Linked DNA regions of Homo sapiens: region 1 is linked to region 2. The links come from fine-mapping of genetic effects on gene expression. A gene starts in region 2. The other region holds a variant in brackets. All regions are shown on one strand. Distances are from middle to middle. Region 1 overlaps CYP19A1 (cytochrome P450 family 19 subfamily A member 1). Region 2 holds the start of CYP19A1 (cytochrome P450 family 19 subfamily A member 1).

What was found. PIP is the estimated chance that this variant, and not a neighbour inherited with it, causes the effect.
Region 1: its variant is fine-mapped to the expression of CYP19A1 in fibroblasts (GTEx, PIP above 0.99). The same link has a PIP of 0.9 or more in whole blood.

Annotation. Positions count from the first base shown.
Region 1 is chr15:51,222,503-51,225,419 of GRCh38, reverse strand. CYP19A1 (cytochrome P450 family 19 subfamily A member 1) reads left to right here. Exons shown (of 10, transcript NM_000103.4): 5 at 2,895-2,917. All of the region lies in intron 1 of MIR4713HG (MIR4713 host gene), which reads right to left. Among named protein-coding and RNA genes, the nearest start is that of MIR4713, 18 kb to the left of the region's middle. The variant T/C (reference allele first, on the strand shown) is at 1,313.
Region 2 is chr15:51,337,182-51,340,098 of GRCh38, reverse strand. CYP19A1 (cytochrome P450 family 19 subfamily A member 1) reads left to right here and starts at 1,503. Exons shown (of 10, transcript NM_000103.4): 1 at 1,503-1,604. RefSeq lists cis regulatory regions at 1,197-1,226, 1,291-1,308, an enhancer at 1,260-1,339 and promoters at 1,260-1,578, 1,001-1,578.

The sequences.
Region 1 (2,917 bases), 110 kb after region 2:
AAATAATGCTATAAGATCCCGTAGAAATGTACATTTGACTTTTTCATTTGGCTCAGGTGTATTAGGAATATGTGAACTAGTATTTAGTAGTAGTTAACTTTCACATACCAATATCCTCTACCCTGACATGCAAGAGCTAATTAAAAGAATCTCTAAGTTCATCCATTTGTTTAACACCCCACCGTTCTCATCTTTGAACTAGGTACCAAGATACAATGACAAACAAGATGTGGTTCCTGCCCTCCAGGAACTTATAATGGGGGAGAGAGGTTTGAATTAGGAAGGGGCAGCCCAGCACATCACCAAATACTACCCTAGGTGATGGTAATGCTGGCGGTGTGCCCAGAGTGATGCCAAGTACAGATGAACAGGCCATCTAAAGCACATTGAGGGGCAGGGGAGACTTTTCAGAGGAATGGATGCTTATAATGAGTTTTAAATGAAGGTAGAAGCTAATTAAGAAAACAAAAGACAAATATTCTAGGAGTAAAGAATAGGATAACCAAAGGCACAGACAAATAGATAGACATGATGCATCCAGGGCCCTGTCGGTAAGTCCTTGTGCCTGGTGCAGATACATTCAGGGACGTGGCCAAGGGGAGGGCAGGGCCAGATCACCAAAGACCTCTCAGTTAAGGCAAGGAATTGAGCTTATCTCAAAAACTATGGAGAATCACTAAAGATTTTAAGCAGAATAACATAAACATATTTGTATTTTATAAAAATCCCTCTGGTAGCAGAGAGAATGACTAATTGGAAGGAAGCAGGATTGTGAGCAGTGAGAACATTTAGGAGCTACTGCAGTGATGCAGGAAGGGTGGAGGGGAGGCTGTGGTTTCAAGAAATGTCAAAAGGGTAGACCCTACAGTAGTAGAGCCTATAGTACTTGGAAATTAAGCAAAACATCTTTGTGATTTTTTTTTAGACAGCCTTCTATAGGCAAGATCAGGGTTTCTACAAAAAGTGCTACATAACTGGACCCAAATTCATAATCTCAGGAAATAGGGGGATAATTGCTTATTGGAAAGTTCACTGTGGTGTCTGACATTTCTATAATCAATGAGGGTCCTAAGCATTTTTCAGTGAATCTCCTTTTGGAGTTAGACTCCCTGTTGGTTTTCCTGATATAGTGGAAAGTTTGGCACAAGTTTTAGTATCTAAATCAGTAACATTAATGAAAGTATTGACTTACTGGGTGAGTCTGTAGAGAAATAGTTAAGTGCAACTTAGGCAATGACCCATCTTGGGAGGTAGGGAAGGGTGGTGGCGAGGGGTGAAGAAATAGCATGTGTTTCCCAAAACTGCCGAGAAA[T/C]GTGTCCATATTGATGGTATTTGCTGATTGTTGCCCAATTTTCTTTTCACTAGATAGAGTCAATACTTTTTAGCATATTTTAAAAATTAAATCATATCTACATCATACCACTGCCTATAAGCCATGTTATTACATTTTTGCCCATAAATTTGGCATGTGGCTTCAAGCTCTTTAAACACAGAGGCAAATCATGCATCGGCCTGGGAGAAAACCACAAGTGACATTCTAAGCCAACCCTTCCACACAAAGGGTTGAGTCATTTGTCCTGCTTGCTGAAGTGGCAGTCACCCAGAGAACAACATCCTGGCCTTTCATATCTGCCAAGTCCTTCCTATGGTCAGAAAGCCTGCTCCTTCCTCAACCTTCCTTCCAAGATGTATGGAAATCTCAAAAGTCTAGGACCAGTCCTCAGGCCTCCTTTCTTATTTGCAAAGTATACCTTTAGGCATGGGGATTCCGCAGCTTAACCCAGTGTGTGTGTGTGTGTGTGTGTGTGTGTGTGTGTGTGTGTGTGAGAGAGAGAGAGAGAGAGAGAGCAAGAGAGAGAGAGAGAGGATAGTCTTCTTCTGGAGTTACGTCTACAAAGTTTCCCAATATTTTTCATCTCATTTCAAAGACTCTGATGTTAACAGCAAACCTGAATAATAAAAGACTTAAAAAGAGATTACTCCTAAAAGATGCTTAAAGAAACGTAACACAAAGAGAGAAAGGGGCACTTTAAGGGTTAAACCCTCCTGTGTAGGCCACCTACCATCAGGACCCACCAGCCACTGCTCAGATATGAACAGGGCAAGAGTAAGATCAAAGCCAGTTTACTCTATTTTCATTCATTCATTCATTCATTCATTCCTCTATTGAAAAAATATGTATGAAGGCCCCCATGGACCATCAGCTTGAAGTGCAATGCTAATGAGTGGCTGTCACTGTCCTTAAAGAGCTCTCAGTTCAGTGAGGGAAGACTGGTAAGCAAGCAAGGAATTGCTTAGCTGTCATGCCATTGGCTGAGTAAAATAAACCTGGAAGTAGTTTGAAGAGAAATCAAAATTAAGAGAAGGGCACTTTGGGGGATTTTTACAACTAGCCTTTTACACTTAAACAGGAAGCACCTTAGATCAAATAGGATCCAATTTGACCAGTTTTCCAATAATATCCTGCCACCTGTTGAAACGCAAAATAAATATGACCCTAGGCAAATCCAAATCATCTTTGGAGGGAAATGTATGCAATAAATATGAAAAAATCACTGATTTGTGATTTATGACCACAAGTACTAAATGTTTCATTTGCAATCTCATAAATGGCTGGCTAGAGCATGAAAAAAAGTTTAATTTTTAATAGTTTGTTTAAAATAATATTTGTCCCTATCTCCTTCCGTTCATTCATTCTTAACCATAGGATAGTACATGCTTATGTAAAATTAGGAGACCACAGAAAAGCATACGAAAATATTATGAAAACTTCCACCCAATTATTAAATTAAAAATTGTGGACAATTAAGCTCCAACATAAAAAGCCAAAATGGCATGATTGTGTGTGTGCCCTGGAGTTCGTGATGGCTGATTCTCTGATGTGTACTCTGCAGCTCTGTCAGGCCCCGGCCTTGTT
Region 2 (2,917 bases):
GAGTTATCATGAGATCTGGTTGTTTAAAAGTGTGTAGCATCTCTCCTGGCCCCTCTTCCTCCTGCTCCCACCATGTGAGATGTTCCTGCTCCTGCTTTGCCTTCCTCCATGAGTAAAAGCTCCCTGAGGCCTCCCCAGATGCAGGTGCTGCCATGCTTCCTGTTCAGCCTGTGGAACCATGAGCCAATTAAACTTCTTTTCTTGTAAGTTACCCAGTCTCGGGCTTTTCTTTATAGCAAGGCAAGAATGGACTAATACACATACCAATTCTTGCAGGTAGGATTTTTTGGCACAGGAGAGAAAGCTGAGTAGTATCAGACTTCTTGCCCCCTACTCTCCAGGGTGAGCCAGGGTAGAGCCTCTGAGAATGCACAAGGAAACTGAAGTGACATCTCAATCAGAAATTCTGAGTCAAAGTTTAGATTCCTGAGTTTTAATAGGAACATTGACCAACTTCAGTATTCTTAGAAGAGCATACAGGATAAGAAGAAATTAGGAAAGCATGAAGGTCCAAGTGTTTCATAAAGTACCCCCACTGTGGGGATATGATGACTGGGAGGGGATGGCAGTGATGTAAAAAGCTTTGTCCATTTCCTCCCAACTCAAACGTTCTGTGACCTACTTGAAGAACTGTCATGTATCCTTATCTCTTTTCATCCAGGTATCAGGTTTAGGGCCAATGGGGAGGAGCCACTGAGAGGGAGGGTTGACACTCAGCATCATTCAGATCTTCATTTAATTCAGTAAACACTTAACTGAGCACTTCCTGTGCCTGGTATGATAATGGGCATTGGAGATACGGAAGTAAAAAAGACAGGCAGATTACCCTGTGAGCAGCTGGAACACCGTGGAGCCTTCTGGGCTTCTCTTTATCCTAACATTCATTGCAGTTACTGTTGACTGATCATCTCTCAGCAATACCCACCATTAACCATGGAATAGAAGCCTCCTGAGGCTAGGGGCCATGTCACCCCCAACACATAGCACAGTTCCTGATTTGGAATTCACTATTACCCGTTGAATAAATGAGTGAATGAACGAATGAATAAATGAAAAGCTGTATAGTGAAGGCACTTCTATGTAGAACAATGTGGTGTGTGGTGGGGGGTGTGATCTTATGATTACATGTATATAGATTTTTGTCCATGGTTCTTGTCCATAACTCCCATGACACTTGCTGAGGTCTTTTGCTATAATGTAGAGGTGCTTTAGGCCTCAGGAAACAGAATATTTCTCTGGCCTTCTTTGCCCTCCTTTCATCCACCCAAGGCGGGACTCTATAATCTGATTGTGGGTCATAAGACCCTCATTCCAGAGGAGGTCATGCCCCATACCCTGGAGGAAGGAATGCTGCACAAAGAGAGGAAGAAGAATCTGGACAGACAGACCTTGCTGAGATTAGATCATACCCTTTTTGTCCAATCACATTTTGTTCAATCACATGCTTCAGTCATGGACAACAAATGAAATCTCCATAAAAGGCCCAAAGGACAGGGTTCAGGGAGTTTCTGGAGGGCTGAACACGTGGAGGCAAACAGGAAGGTGAAGAAGAACTTATCCTATCAGGACGGAAGGTCCTGTGCTCGGGATCTTCCAGACGTCGCGTATGTATCTCTTAATCTGACTGAGCCCTCAACCTGTGGGATCAGACACTCTTTCCAGGTAGATAGTGTTGGAACTGAGTTGGAGGACACCCAGCTGGTGCCCGCTGCTTGGTGTGTGGGGGAAAATCCCCTACATTTGGTCGCAGAAGTCTTCTGTGTTGATGACTGTTGTCGTGGTGTGAGAGCAGAGGGAAAACACTGCTTGAGTGTTTTTCTGAAATAGGAGGGCCTAAGAACTATACTGTTCTATGCCACAGAACTGGCCCCCTACTTTCCTTGAAAGGCTGGCTATCCAATGGTGAGGAGAGGAAGTGGTAGCCTGAACCAGCCTCCCCATTTCCCCACCTCCCACCCCAGTTCAGAGCCCAGATCCAGTAGACAGAGCAGAGATGAGGCCTGCTTGGAGCCAGGCAGGCTCTATTAGACAACTTCAGGCCAAGAAGCTGCCCCTCTTGGGATGCAGGACTCAAAAGGCTTGTAGCATGGCCACCCCGTGGGCTGGGTTGGTGGAAAGCCTGGGATATTGCTCTGGGGCAAGAGGGGCAGAAGGAAGCGCAAATGAAAAGCCAGACTCCTTTCCTACCAGACTCCACTGTCAGATCCCTCTCCAACTCTTCCTGTGTGGGATGATGGCATTTTTCACAGAAGAAGGGGGACATGTTGATATGGCCTACAAGGTAGACATCTTCACTCATCTCTCACCCTAAAGTGGCTGTGCCCAAGCAGCTGCCATGCTCTGCCCTCTTTCCTCTTCTCCTCTATCTTCTCTCTCCAACCCTCTTTCCACCGCAGTGCCACACAGTGACCTATCTCCATCACTGGCCTATTTCAGTGTTGCCCACTTTAAGGCCTAACTCCGAGTACCCTTCCTCATCTAGCCTTGACTTCCTAGGCCAGTCCCAAGCACTGTGAGCTCTACAAGCTGCAGGGGCTCTGTGGTTATGCACCTGGGCTTTGGAATCAGACCTGACCTTGAAACTGTTTTTTAACTGCATGACTTTAGATATGCTACTCAAGTTCTTTAAAGAGACTGTAATTGTATCTATTTCATAGGGTTGTGAAGCTTTAATAAGAAAATACTTGTAAAGCACTTGTATAATAAATGTTCAACACGGGTTGGTATTGTTGGATATGGGCCATATGAACTGGCTGAGACTTACACTGTGTGTGCCTTGTGCTGTTAGTTGACACTTTAGTTCTTCTGTGCCTTGTGCTGTTAATCGACATCTTAGTTCTTCCACATCCTATTTCTTCAGTTGGGTTACAATATTCTTAAGGCAGGGACCTATCTTAACTGTCCTCTCACAGCAGGG